Regions from separate parts of the Homo sapiens genome. Here region 1 is reported to be linked to region 2. Evidence: microRNA targets listed by miRTarBase, many of them from high-throughput screens and not tested one by one. Region 2 holds a microRNA gene; the other region holds the end of a gene's coding sequence.
The links. Region 2 holds the annotated microRNA hsa-miR-524-3p (GAAGGCGCUUCCCUUUGGAGU, at 1,954-1,974, shown strand). A microRNA usually pairs through its seed, bases 2 to 8, with sites in the 3' UTR of a target mRNA and lowers its output. Matches are read on the target gene's strand: a 7mer-m8 pairs with bases 2 to 8, a 7mer-A1 pairs with bases 2 to 7 and ends in A, and an 8mer does both.

Region 1: miRTarBase lists VAV3 as a target of hsa-miR-524-3p. The part of its 3' UTR that is shown has no 7-base or 8-base seed match.

What each region holds. Positions count from the first base shown.
Region 1 is chr1:107,567,462-107,574,461 of GRCh38, reverse strand. It overlaps VAV3 (vav guanine nucleotide exchange factor 3), which reads left to right. Exons shown (of 27, transcript NM_006113.5): 26 at 264-415; 27 at 1,090-3,301. The coding sequence ends at 1,131. Among named protein-coding and RNA genes, the nearest start is that of MIR7852, 330 kb to the left of the region's middle.
Region 2 is chr19:53,709,101-53,716,366 of GRCh38, forward strand. MIR524 (microRNA 524) reads left to right here and starts at 1,902; the gene lies at 1,902-1,988. MIR517A (microRNA 517a) reads left to right here and starts at 3,168; the gene lies at 3,168-3,254. MIR519D (microRNA 519d) reads left to right here and starts at 4,247; the gene lies at 4,247-4,334.

The DNA of each region.
Region 1 (7,000 bases), not on the chromosome of region 2:
AACTAGTCCTTACTTTGATTGAGGTTCTTATGAAGAATGGAAAAACAGGACAATGGTTCTTTAAACTTATGAAGCGAATTTGCTTGCACCTGATTGAATTGAAACAGCAATTCTGCTGCTTTCAAGCTCCTCTGCCATTATCGCTGGTCTGTAATGAAATCACGACTGTGCATTTGATAGCATCAATAACATTCATCTGATTAGGTTGTTATGGTTGTTAACGAACTGCAAACCTACTGTCATTGCTTGTCATTTCTTGACAGTGTTAAGTCCAAAAGTGCTGGGCATTGCCATCGCTCGGTATGACTTCTGTGCAAGAGATATGAGAGAGTTGTCCTTGTTGAAAGGAGATGTGGTGAAGATTTACACAAAGATGAGTGCAAATGGCTGGTGGAGAGGAGAAGTAAATGGCAGGGTAAGTTGGCCCTCTCGATGTGCTGGTGCATGTGAAAGAAGGGGACTGAGCAGTTGTTTGCACCCATTGTGGCACCAGGGAGAAGCCTCTATACTGTATTACAGCTTTCAGCCCACAGGCCTCTGCCCTCTGGAAACTGGTGCTGTGTTTTGCTGATACCAGGGACTCGCTGAAAATATTTGAAATGAATATGATAGTGACATAAATAAAATTCACCTGGGCAAGTGGGACAGCTTGCTGCTTGGAAAAGAGTCGAGGAGCATTTCAGTTCTTTTTAGACCCTGAGCCATAGAGCTAAACTTTATGTGTATTGCAAAATATCTATAAGAACTGCTGATGTAAATTGGAAAGAATGGGACATAGTACCTCTGTCTTTTCATCCTGTTCTACAGCAGAAATAGGAATCATTATGCAGCAGAGCCCCCCTGTATTATACTTAATTTACATATTTATTTGTGTGCTAGTGGATTAGAACACTGTTTATTTTATTCCTCCATTTCGATCATTTACTCTATTAGGCTTCTAAGAGCAGTTAAACCAATCTTCTCACCTACAATGGACATAAAACCCCAGTTTAATTGGGGTGTTATGAAAACAAAATACTCTGTTTGTAGAATCCTTTGAAGTGTCAGATACAAAGTCATGTTGCTGTGTTGGTTGCTTTTCTTTTTTAGGTGGGCTGGTTTCCATCCACATATGTGGAAGAGGATGAATAAATTCAAATCCCGTGTTGCACCCTGCACCAAAAATTTCAGAGAAGGGATAAATAGAAGCCTGCACAGCATCGTGAATTAACTGAAGTGTTTAAAAAGCTGCATTTCTGGCTGTTCAACATCCTCCCTCCTTAGCCCCTCCTAAGTCTTAATGCTGAGATTTCTAAAGATGCTGGTACTGACAGATTAATGGCTTGCCTAGAGCTGTGCAAGAAACAGCCTGCCAGTCTGTCATTGTCAGGGACCAGGGCAAAACCAAGAGCTGTTCTTCCCAGAAGAGCCCTGCAAACACATTGGTTCGTGCTTCCCTTTACTTCTTCTGGTCAGATACCATGAATGCCAGTCATCAGTAAATCTTAATACACTTTTGCTTTATTCTCACATGCCATTCACCAGATTATTTGATGGTACAAAGAAGCAGAAGTGTAATTTTCCTTTTCCCAGCATGACGAAAAATTGGAGTTCTGCCATTTGAGCAGCTTACTGGAAAGATCCAGCCTTACTTGTCTTAAATTGTCCAACAAGGTGACTCATTGCCCGGCAAACACTTTTACCCTCAGATGTTACTCATGATATTATAAAATATGAGGCCAGTGCTCAGGTTTGCATCATAAGTGAGCTATCCCTGAAGGGTTTTAATTACTTATTTGGTGTCCTGATTATATTTGCAAACTTCTTTATAAAAGGTGAAAAAAGCACACAAAAGAGAGGGTGTCTTCATATTAAACCTTCACAACCTTCATGATTTCATAGGATTATTTTGGAAATATAGCACTTGACTTTATGAAAGGATCTGGGCTAGGTATATTAAGGGTAGTTGCCAATAACCTGAAGAAGCTGGCATTGTTTACAGAAACAGATCAAGGGCTATAATTTATGTCATTTTATAGCAGCAGTATCTATTAATACATGCCTTTTCCTCCCATCCACCTCCCCCGCACACACACAAAGATGACCTGGGACATGATTTTTTTATTCCCACATTTTCTTGGAGCACAAACAACTTTGTTGAGGATTTTGGAAGGAAAGCACAACTGGGTCCTTTATTCATTTCTGGGACAGAAAGAGGGTCAGTGGACTTTTGTGGGCCTCCAGCTTCTCTCAGAGTCTCCCCCTCTGCAGCCCATCCTGGGAGTGTATTAACTGGAGGGAAGATGGGTCTTGCAGTACATTTGTTTTGCCCAGCCATCACTCTTTTTTGTGAGGAGCCTAAATACATTCTTCCTGGGGTCCAGAGTCCCCATTCAAGGCAGTCAAGTTAAGACACTAACTTGGCCCTTTCCTGATGGAAATATTTCCTCCATAGCAGAAGTTGTGTTCTGACAAGACTGAGAGAGTTACATGTTGGGAAAAAAAAGAAGCATTAACTTAGTAGAACTGAACCAGGAGCATTAAGTTCTGAAATTTTGAATCATCTCTGAAATGAAGCAGGTGTAGCCTGCCCTCTCATCAATCCGTCTGGGTGCCAGAACTCAAGGTTCAGTGGACACATCCCCCTGTTAGAGACCCTCATGGGCTAGGACTTTTCATCTAGGATAGATTCAAGACCTTTACCTCAGAATTATGTAAACTGTGATTGTGTTTTAGAAAAATTATTATTTGCTAAAACCATTTAAGTCTTTGTATATGTGTAAATGATCACAAAAATGTATTTTATAAAATGTTCTGTACAATAAAGTTACACCTCAAAGTGTACTCTTGGAATGGATTCTTTCCTGTAAAGTCTTATCTGCGACTCTGTCTCGGGAATGTTTTGTCTGTTGCCGTCAGCCGAACTTTGTTATGGAGGGAGCAGCCTCACACAAGCAGAAACACTCCTGTGGATGGTATTGTAGCATGTATTGTTTATTTTAGTCAATAGACCCTCTCCTTATAAATGGTGTTTAGTCTTCCTGTTGCATTTCATGGGCCTGGGGGTTTCCTAGCAGAGGATATTGGAGCCCCTTTTTGTGACATTACCAATTACATCTTTGTCCACGTTTAATACTTTGTTTTGGAAAATTTAAATGCTGCAGATTTGTGTAGAGTTCTAATACCAAAGACAGAAGTAAATGTTTTCCATATACTTTGTCTTGCCTGTATGCAGCCCTCGTGTAATACGGTGAATTAGAGTGGTATTTCACTTTGTATTATTTTGTAAATATGTCAATATAATAAATAGTGACTAAATTGATTTCTAAGAGTTGGAGTCTTTTTATTGAATGATCCCTGTATTAGTCAGGGTTCCCCTGAAAATGGATGGCACTGGATTGTTGGGCCTGTACCAGGCCATCGCCAGCAGTCCAGAGTGAACAGAAGCAGTGTATGTGTGGAGGTCACCACCCCCCCGCCCGCCAGCCCCGTGGACGCTATGCGTCTAGTAGGAGGGCCGCTGCGGTGAGTCTTGAAGCCCAGGGCTGGGCCCGGGCAGAGCCGCCGCAGGTGCAGATGTTGGTGGTAGTAGCACATATTCTAAAGAGAACTTCAAAGGCCGAAGTGGAGAAGGGTTCCATGTGAACAGCAGTTGGACATGGGTCATTCGGTCCTGAGAAATAGGTGAGCGCCATTCTGAATGGACAGGCGATGGCCTCTGTTGCCCTCAGCCAATCGAAAGGGAGTCCGGTTCAGATCCCGAATCCGGAGTGGCGGAGATGGACACTGCCAAGCGTCCAGCACAGTAATGCGAAGGATCCCAGAGAAGCCAATGGAAGCCCCGGGGAGAGTTCTTTTCTCCTTGTGAAGGGCAGGGCGCCCTGGAATTGGGTTCGCCTGGAGAGAGGGGTCCGCGCCTTGGAAAGCGTCGCGCTTCCAGCGGCATCTGGTGAGCTCTGGAGGGCCCTTGAAAGTGCGGGGGAGAGGGTGTAAATCTCGCGCCCGGCTGTACCCATATCCACAGCATTCCTCCCTCTGGAACTAAGACCTCTAGGCCAGCACAACAGAATGTCGCGGGAACAGGAAGCAAAAATTTTGCTAGTGGATCACTTAGGGTGATGGTGAGTGGTGCCACTTCCACTTCCACCCCCTGATTCCTGGACCCTTGAATCCTGGCCATGGGAGAAACAGTACCATACATTGGACACTGATTCAGAGCATACACGGCCTTCTAAAGAATTTTGTCCCATCCCTGCAAAGTATTGTCACCTAGTTGGCATTGTAATTGTGACTTCAAAAGGCCATTCCACCTTTCTATCAATTCAGCTGCTTCAGGATGATGGTGAATTCCATGAGCATGAGCCCACTGCTACACTTCTTTAGCCATAAAGTGAGTGCCTTGGACAGAGGCAATGCTGTGTGGAATAGCATGATTGTGGATAAGGCATTCTGTGAGTCCACGGATGGTAGTCTTGGCAGAAGCATTGCATACAAAATAGGCAAACCCATATCTGGAGTAATTGTCTATTCCAGTGAGGACAAACTTCTGCCTTTTCCATGATGGAAGAGGTCCAATATAATCAACCTGCCACCAGGTAGCTAGCTGCCTGATCACCCCAAGGAATGGTGCCATATCGAGGGCTCAGTGTTGGTCTCTGCTGCTGGCAAATTGGGCACTCAACACTGGCTGTAGCCAGGTCAGCCTTGGTGAGTGGAAGTCCATGTTGCTGAGCCCATGTGTAACCTCCAACCCTGCCACCATGGCCACTTTGTTGATGGGCCCATTGAGCGATGACAGGAGTGACTGGAGAAGGAGGCTGAGTGGTGTCCACAGAATGGGTCATACTAGCCAGTTGATTATTAAAATCCTCCTCTGCTGAGGTCACCCATTGGTGAGCACTCACATGGGATACAAATATCTTCACAGTTTTTGGCCACTCAGGCCCATCCACATACCTCTTCCCCAGATTTCTTTGTCACCAATTTTCCAATCATGCTTCTTCCAGGTCCCTGACCACCCAGCCAAACCATTGGCTACAGCCCACGTATCAGTATATAATCACACAACCAGGTGCACTGATTGAAGTTCTGCCCACTGGAAATATTTCCCTTCAGCACTGTCCTTCAGGGATGTCTTGGAAAGGGGCTGTAGTGCTGCAGCTGTCCACTTTGGGTGATGCCTGCATATCATGAAGAACCATCTGTGAACCAGGCCCTAGTCTTCTCTCCTCTGTCAATTCATCATAGAGAACTCCTTATGCGGCCATTGGTGCAGGCTAGGGAAGAGAAAGCAGGGTGGCAGGAGTAGAGACCATGGGCGTTTGAGCCACTTCCTCATGTAACTTACTTGGCCTTCAAGACCTGCTCGAGCCCGATCACGTATATACCACTTTCATTTGATGATGGAATGCTGCTGTGCATGACCCACTTTATGGCTAGATGGGTCAGAAAGCACCCAGTTCATGATAGGCAATTCAGGTGGCATGGTGACTTGATGACCCATAGTCAAATGTTCAGTTTCCACCAAAGCCCAGTAGCAATCCAAGAGCTGTCTCTCAAAAGGAGAGTAGTTATCTGCAGAAGATGGCAGGGTCTTGCTCCAAAATCCTGGAGGCCTCCACTGTGATTCACCTATGGGGGTCTGCCGAAGGCTCCAAACAGCATCCCTATCTGCCACTGACACCTCAAGCACGATTGGATCTGCTGGGTCATATGGCCCAAGTGGCAGAGCAGCTCGTACAGCAGCCTGGACCTGTTGCAGAGCCTTCTGTTCTGGACCCCACTCAAAACTGGCAGCCTTTCAGGTCACTTGATAATTGGGCAGGACTAATATACCCAAATGAGGAATGTGTTGCCTCCAAAAGCCAAATAGGCCCACTAGGCATTGTGCCTCTTTCTTGGTTGTAGGAGGGGCCAAATGCAGCAACTTACCCTTTACCTTAGAAGGACTATCTTGACAGGCCCCACAGTCCCATAACACACATACACCAGCCCCATAATTAACATGGGGATTAAGCCCTAATTTTGTTTAAGTTTAGCTCAGGATTGCTGCCTAAGTTATGAACAGTGAACTACAAGGTAAACTCAATAGTTGCCAATAACATGTATTGGCATGCTTACCATGTGCCATGCTCTGTTCTAAGTGCTTTATTTGCACCAACTTACAACAACCCCCAAAGGTAGAACCCCATAATATTTTCATTTGCACATGAGGAAACTGAGGTACATCAAGAGGTTGCAACTTTCCCAAAGTCACACAGCTGCTAAGTGTCAGAGCTGAATTCTGACTTGGGTGGTCTGGCTCCAGAGTCCGTATAACCACTACCCTATCCTGCCACACTTTGTAGGGCAAGAGAGAGATTTCGTACATTTTTAAACTTACATAACCGAGAAGAAACTATACGATACTAAACAGTGGTTTGAACAATGAAAGGTTAACACAGAATTCAGAAATATGCCACTATTCCTGCCACCTAAAAGAAAACCCAAAAAAGATATTGCCTAGAGAGATTAGTATCAGATTGAATTTTCGTTTCTACTTTGATTCACTCTTGCACTAGAAAATGGCTGCTAATCCAGAGAGGCTTGGAGTCAAGTTTCCCTTGGTGGAGCAGGCCAGCTGATAATCCACAGTGATGGAGTCTGTCTTAGGGAGAGGGTGGAATCACTTCATTCCTTCTAAGGACCAGGAAAGGCCATGGTGGTAGCTTCTGCTTGACTTCACCATCACAACCTTGCTACAAACACAAAATTCCTCTTATTTTCATTACGATACAGTGGGTTATACAGCCCTGAATCCATTATTTGAGGAGCCAACTCCGTTGGTATCTTTATCACTTCTCTTTGACATATTAACATTACGTGACTGTTAGACCTTGTATCAGTTCATCACCGTCCTCACCACTGCCAATTGTACTCACCGTTGCTCCCTTTATTTGCTAGTTAACATGGGAACACAGCTTTGTAACAAGTATTTTGTCTTCCACCAAATGAGTGAAGTAAAATATGCTGGTAGTTAGTT
Region 2 (7,266 bases):
CACTGCAACCTCCGACTCCGTGGTTCAAGCGATTCTCCTGCCTCAGCCTCCTGAGTAGCTGGGATTACAGGCACGCACCGCCATGCCGAGCTAATTTTTGTATTTTTAGTAGAGACCGGGTTTCACCACGTTGGCCAGGATGGTCTCAAACTCCTGACCTCATGATCCACCCGCCTCGGCCTCCCAAAGTGCTGGGATTACAGGTGTGAGCCTCCGTGCCCAGCCTGTTATTTTATTTTGTTTTATTTTATTTATTTTATTTTATTTTGAGATGGAGACTGGCTCTGTCGCCCAGGCTGGAATGCAGTGGCAGGATCTCCACTCACTGTAACTCCCACCTCTGTCGCCCAGGCTGGAGTGCAGTGGCAGGATCTCCACTCACCGTGGAGTTCCAGTGATTCTTTCACCTTAGCCTCGCAAATAGCTGGTATTACAAGCACCCACCAACACACCCTGCCAATTTTTGTATTTTTAGACAAGAAAGGGTTTCGCCATGTTGGCCAGGCTGGTCTCGACTCCTGACCTTAAGTGATCCACCTCCCTGGCCTCCCAAAGTGCTGGGATTACAGGCGTGAGCCACCACGTCCAGCCTCAAGTGGTCTTCTTGTCAGCCTCGCAAGTAGTTGGGCTCAGGTTTTAATTTTTGGTAGAGATGGGGTCTCTTTTGCCTGGGATGGTCTCAGCTGAGCTTAAGTGATCCTAAATGTGTGAGCCACCTTGTCCCATTTCAAAGATAGGTGACACGGCCAGGCATCCTGGGACACACAGGGTCCCAGTTACTGCAAAGGCTAGGGTGGGAGGGTCCTTTGATTTTAAGGCTATACCATGCACTGATCACACCTTTGAATAGCCACTGCACTCCGGCCTGGGCCACATAGCAAGATCCCATCTCTTTAAAAACGCAGATTACATGCCATCTGGTTCCTGAGGCTCCATTTGGGTTGGTCACTTCAAATACAGGCCTTTCATCAGTTTAGTTTAATCAATCCAAACCATGTTTCCTTCATTAGGAGAGTAAGGGCCAGGTGTGTAATCCAAGCACTTTGGGAGACTGAAGCAGGCGGATCAGGAGGTCAGGAGTTCGAGACCAGCCTGACCAATATGGTGAAACCCCGTCTCTACTAAAAATACAAAGATTAAGTGGGCGTGGTGGTGCGTGCTTGTAATCCCAGCTACTCAGGAGGCTGAGGCAGCAGAATCTCTTCAACCCAGGAGGCGGAGGTTGCAGTGAGCCAAGATCGCGCAGGTGCACTCCAGCCTGGGCGACAGAGCGAGGCTCCATCTCAAAACAAAACAAAACAAAAAATATAGGCCTCCACATCTATCCAGTCTATTCTGTAATCCCAATGGATGTCAATATTAATACAATGTTCTTATTTTTTCTATTTATTTGTATCTTTTTAGTTGAATCTCCTTGTCCCTGACACTAAATTTTTTTTATTTTTATTTATTTATTTTTTTTGAAACAGTCTTGCTCTGTCGCCCAGGCTGCAGTACAGTGGCGCAATCTCGGCTTACTGTAGCCTCTGTCTCCCGGGTTCCAGTGATTCTCCTTCCCCAACTCCCGGGTAACTGGGATTTTCAGGCACACACCACCACCCCAGCTAATTTTTTTGTACGTTTAGTAGAGACAGGGTTTCACCATATTGGGCAGGCTGGCCTTGAACTCCTGAACTAAGGTGATCCGCCCACCTCGGCCTCCCAAAGTGCTGGGATTAGGGATAAGGCTAACCTGCTTATTCTTTGTAGCAAGGAACTGGAGATGGTCATTTTAGGGGTTTATGTTCTGGATTCCAGAAAACATGCAAACAGGGCCAATAAATGCATCCTCATTTTTGTGTCCATTTTAACCTGGGCAAGGAAAATTCCAACAAAAAACCCAGAGTTCTGGAGCAAGAAGATCTCATGCTGTGACCCTACAAAGGGAAGCACTTTCTCTTGTCCAAAGGAAAAGAAGGCGCTTCCCTTTGGAGTGTTACGGTTTGAGAAAAGCAGCGTTGAAGTTGATGCTTATCTCGGTAATACATTTGTAGAGCATGCTTATCATGAGGCTTGGACGATGGCGGGGTTCTGTTTTGGTTTTGCTTTTTTATTCTAAGACAGGATCTCTGTTGCCCAGGCTGGAGTGCGGTGGCACATCCAACCTAGGTCTTTTGGATTCAAATGGTTTTTTTAGCGGACAGAGTCTCTCTATCACCCAGGCTGAAGTGCAGTGGTGTGATCTCGGCTCACTGCAACCTCCACCTCCCAGGTTCAAGCGAGTCTCCTGCCTCAGCTTCCCAAGTAGGTGAGATTACAGGTGCCCATCACCACACCTGGATAATATTTTCATTTTTTAAAATTCATTTATTTATGTTTTTGAGATGGAGTCTCACTGTTACCCAGGCTGGAGGGCCGAGGCGTGATCTCTGCTCAGTGCAACCTCTGCCTCCCGGATTCAAGCAATTCTTCTACCTCAGCCTCCTGAGTAGCTAGAATTACGGGAGCCCACCACCACACCTGGCTACTTTTTGTTTTTTGTTTTTTGTTTTTTTTTTAGTAGAGATGGGATTTCACCATGTTTGCCAGGCTGGTCTCAAACCCCTGACCTCAAGTTAGCCACCGGCCTCTGCCTCCCAAAGTGCTGGGATTACAGGCATGAGCCACCACGCCTGGCCTAATTTTTATATTTTCAGCAGAGGCGGGGTTTCACCATGTTGGCCAGGCTGGTTGCGAACTCCTGACCTCAGGTGATCTGCCCACCTCAGCCTCCCAAAGTGCTAAGATTACAGGCGTGAGCCACCACACATGGCCATTAACACCTTTTAGTCCATGGAAATTATTCTGGCACTGATTTATAAAGCCTCATGTGGGGTCAGGTAGAGTCAAAGGGGGACCTCAGTGTCCCTTGCAGATGGGATGTGCTCAGCAAGAGCACGGAGGTGGAGTGCATGGGGTTTGAGTTTTCACTGGGGAAATGAAACCAACATCTTGGGTGCATGACCAGGTCATATATGCAGTCATATATGCAATATGCATGGTGGTGGGTGCCTCTAATCCCAGCTACTCAGGAGGCTGACGCAGAAGAATCGCTTGAACCCAGGAGGCAGAAGTTGCCATGAGCCGAGATCCCACCACCGCATCCAGCCTGGGCGGCAGAGTGAGACTCCGTGTCAAAAAAAAGAAGATCTCAGGCAGTGACCCTCTAGATGGAAGCACTGTCTGTTGTATAAAAGAAAAGATCGTGCATCCCTTTAGAGTGTTACTGTTTGAGACAAGCAACGTTGAAGATGCTGCTGATCTTGGTAATACATTTGCAGAGCGTGCTTATCATCAGACTTGCATGATGTCGGGGTTCTGTTTGTGATTTGAAATTTTTCCAAGACAGGCTTTCTATTGCCCAGGCGTGGGTGGATAGCACCTTCCACCAAGATTTCTTGGGCTTAAGTGGTCCTCTTTTTATTTTTTGATTTTTTGAGACACACTCTTGTTTCGTTGGGAGTGCAGTAGCAGGATCTCTGCTCACCGGAAACTCCACCTCTCGGGTTCCAGTGATTCTCCCACCTCAGCCTGCCGAATTGTTGGGAATTCAGGCATCAGGCACCCACCATCGTGTCCTGCACTCTTGCTGCCCATCCTGGAGAGCACTGGCATGATCTAGGCTCACTGCAACCTCCGCCTCCTGGGTTCGAGTGATGCTTCTGCCTCAGCCTCCCAGGTAGTTGGGATTACAGGCACCTACTGCCCCACCCAGCTAATTTTTATGTTTTTAGTAGAGACGGGTTTCACCATGTTGGCCAGGCTAGTCTTGAACTCCCGCTTTCAGGTGATCCACTAGCCTGTGGTCTATCCTGGAGGATGTTTGTGTGTGTGACAATGTATATTCTTCAACATCTTAGACTCCATTTTGGATGCTCCCATCGGAACTATGTATCCCTGTGCTGGAACTCAAGTGAACACTCAGCTCAAAGTCCATTGCTGTTCTCTAGAAATCCAGCCCAGTTCTCTTGGTTAAATATAAGGTATGTGTAGTAGGCATTGCTTTTTCTCTTTAGAGGCAAAACTCAGGAGGGTTGCCCCTTGATGAACAAGGCTAACCTGCAGAGCCTTTGAAGAAAGGAACTGGAGATGGTCCTTTTAGGGGTTTATGTTCTGGATTCTAGAAAACAGGCAAACAGGGCCAATAAATGCATCTTTATTGTTGTGGCCATTTTAACCTGGTCAAGGAAGATTTCAACAAAAAACCCAGAGTGCTGGAGCAAGAAGATCCCATGCTGTGACCCTCCAAAGGGAAGCGCTTTCTGTTTGTTTTCTCTTAAACAAAGTGCCTCCCTTTAGAGTGTTACCGTTTGGGAAAAGCCACGTTGAAGATGATGCTGATCTTGGTAATACATTTGCAGACCATGCTTGTAATCAGACTTGGATGATGTTGGGAGTCTGTTTTTTTGTTTGTTTGTTTGGTTGGTTTTTTTGTTTGTTAGGTTTTTGTTTTTTGTTTTGGTGTGTGTGTTTTGTTTTGTGTTTTTTTTTTTTTCTAAGACAAGGTCTCTGTTGCCCAGGAGAGACTAGAGAAGCACTTTTTAAGATAGGCCTGTTGGGCTCAGATGGTCCTTTTATGGGATACAGTCTTGCTCTGTGACCCAGACTGGAGTGCAGTGGCGCGATCTTGGCTCAATGCAACCTCCACCTCCCGGGTTCGAGTGATTCTCCTGCCTCAGCTTCCTGGGTAGCTGGGATTACAGATGCCTGACATCACACTCGGCTAATATTTGTATTTTTCTTTTTTATTCATTCATTCATTTTTGAGATGGAGTGTTGCTGTCACCCAGCCTGGAGGGCAGTGGCATGATCCCGGCTGACTCCAACCTCTGCCTCTCAGGTTCAAGCCATTCTCCTGCCTCAGTCTCCTGAGTAGGTGGAATTACAGGCACCCACCACTACAACCAGCTACTTTTTGATTTTGATTTTTTTTTTTTTTTTTTTTTTTTAGTAAAGGTGGGGTTTCACCATGTTGGCCAGGCTAGTCTCAAACCCCTGACCTCAAGTGAGCCGCTGGCCTCGGCCTCCCAAAGTGCTGAGAATACAGGCGTGAGCCACCGGGCACAGCCATCAGCACCTTTTACTTTATGGAAATTTTTCTGGCACTGGTATAGAACCTCACGTGGGGTCAGGTGGAGTTGAGGGGACCTCAGTGTCCCTGCAGATGGGATGAGCAAGAGCACGGAGGTGGAGTGCATGGGGCTTCAGTGTTTATTGGGGAAATGAAGCTGAAATCTGGGTGCATGACCAGGAGATAAATGCATGAGACGGCGGTCTCACTATGCTGCCCTGGCTGAAGTGGGCTTAGATCCTCCTGCCTCTGCCCCTCCCCAGTCCTTGGTAGATGGGACCACATGTGAATATTAACCCCCCATGCACAGACAAGAAGAAAGTAAGGACTGTTCTTTGGTTCATACCTGACCCCAGTTAAACTTGTATTTTAGATAAACAATGTATTTGAGATGTACTTGAACAACAAACGATTTGCTGTTCAGGTGTGGGCATCTTTGTTTTGTTTTTTTTTTTCCTAATTTTAAATATGGGACTAGTGTGCATATGGTGGCTCTTGTCTGTAATTCCTGCACTTTGTGAGGCTGAGACAGGAGGATCACCTGAGATCAGTTGTTCGAGACCAGCCTGGCCAACATGAAGCCAGGAGGCTGAGCTTTCAGTGAGCTGAAATCTTCTGCTGCACTCCACCCTGGGCAACAGAGTGAGACTCAGTCTCAAGAAAGTAAAAAATAGGCCGGGCGCGGTGGCGCATGCCTGTAATCCCAGCACTTTGGGAGGCCGAGACGGGAGGATCACCTGAGGTCAGGAGTTCAAGACCAACAGGGCCAACATGGCAAAGCCTCGTCTCTACTAAAAATACAAAAATTAGCTGGGTGCAATGGTGCACATCTGTAATTCCAGCTACTCCGGAGGCTGAGGCAGGAGAATCCCTTGAACCCAGGAGGAGGAGATTTCAGTGAGCTGAAATCAAGCCATGGCATTCCAGCCTGGGCCAGAGAGCAACATTCCGTCTCAAAAATAAATGAATAAATAAAATAAATAAAAATAAATAGATAAATATGGGACATCATAAATTTGGGTGTCACCTTTGTGTAGCAGCCAGCGTAATCTCTGTCATTCCAATTTTTTTTTATGTGAACTGCCAAAGCAAGCACTTGTGTAGGAATTTTTCTTCCTGTGAGCATACAATATATGGAACTTTCTTTGACACAGGGTCTCAGAAATATATGGTATATATTTCGTTATATATATACTTATATATAATATAATCATATACACACAAAATACTGTTCTAAATACAGAGAATACTCTGATATAACCTTGGGTATTTTTTTCTTTCTTTGTGTGTGTATGTTTTTTATTTGTTTGGCTGGTTTTTTTTTGTTTTTGTTTTTTGTTTTTTGTTTTTTGTTTTTGTTTTTGTTTTGAGACAGAGTCTCACTCTGTCGCCGAGGCTGGAGTGCAGTGACAGGATCTCGGGTCACTGCAAGCTCCGCCTACCGGGTTCACGCCATTCTCCTGCCTCAGCCTCCTGAGTAGCTGGGACCACAGGCACCCACCACCACACCTGGCTAATTTTTTTTTGTATTTTTAGTAGAGACAGGGTTTCGCCATGTTAGCCAGGATGATCTCGATCTCCTGACCTCGTGATCCACCCGCCTCGGCCTCCCAAAGTGCTGGGATTACAGGCGTCAGCCACCGCGCCCGGCCAGTTGGTTATTTTTGAGACAAGGTCTGGCTCTATCACCCAGGCTGGAGTGTAGTGGTGCGATCTTGGCTCACTGCAACCTCCACCTCCCACCTAAACCTGCTGAATTAGTGTCTACAGGCATGCACCACCACACCTGGCTCACTTTTGTGTTTTTCATACACATGGGTTTACACCATGTTGCTGGGGCTGGTCTCAGGAACTCCTGAGCTCAGGTGATCCTCCCGTCTTGGCCCCCTAATGTGCTAGGATTAGAGGTGTGAGCCAACCCACCCCACCCATACTTACGTATTTCTGTTCAGATTTTATTGAGTTTTTATGACCAAGCCTATGGTCTATCCTGGAGAATATTTGTGTATGTGACAATGTATATTCTTCAACATCGTAGACTCGATTTTGGGTGCTCCCATCGGGACTGTGTGTACCTGTCCTGGAACTCAAGTGCACCCTTGGCTCATAATCCATTGCTCTTCTCCAGAAATCTTACCAATTCTCCTGCTTAAATATAAGCTACGTGTAGTAGGCAT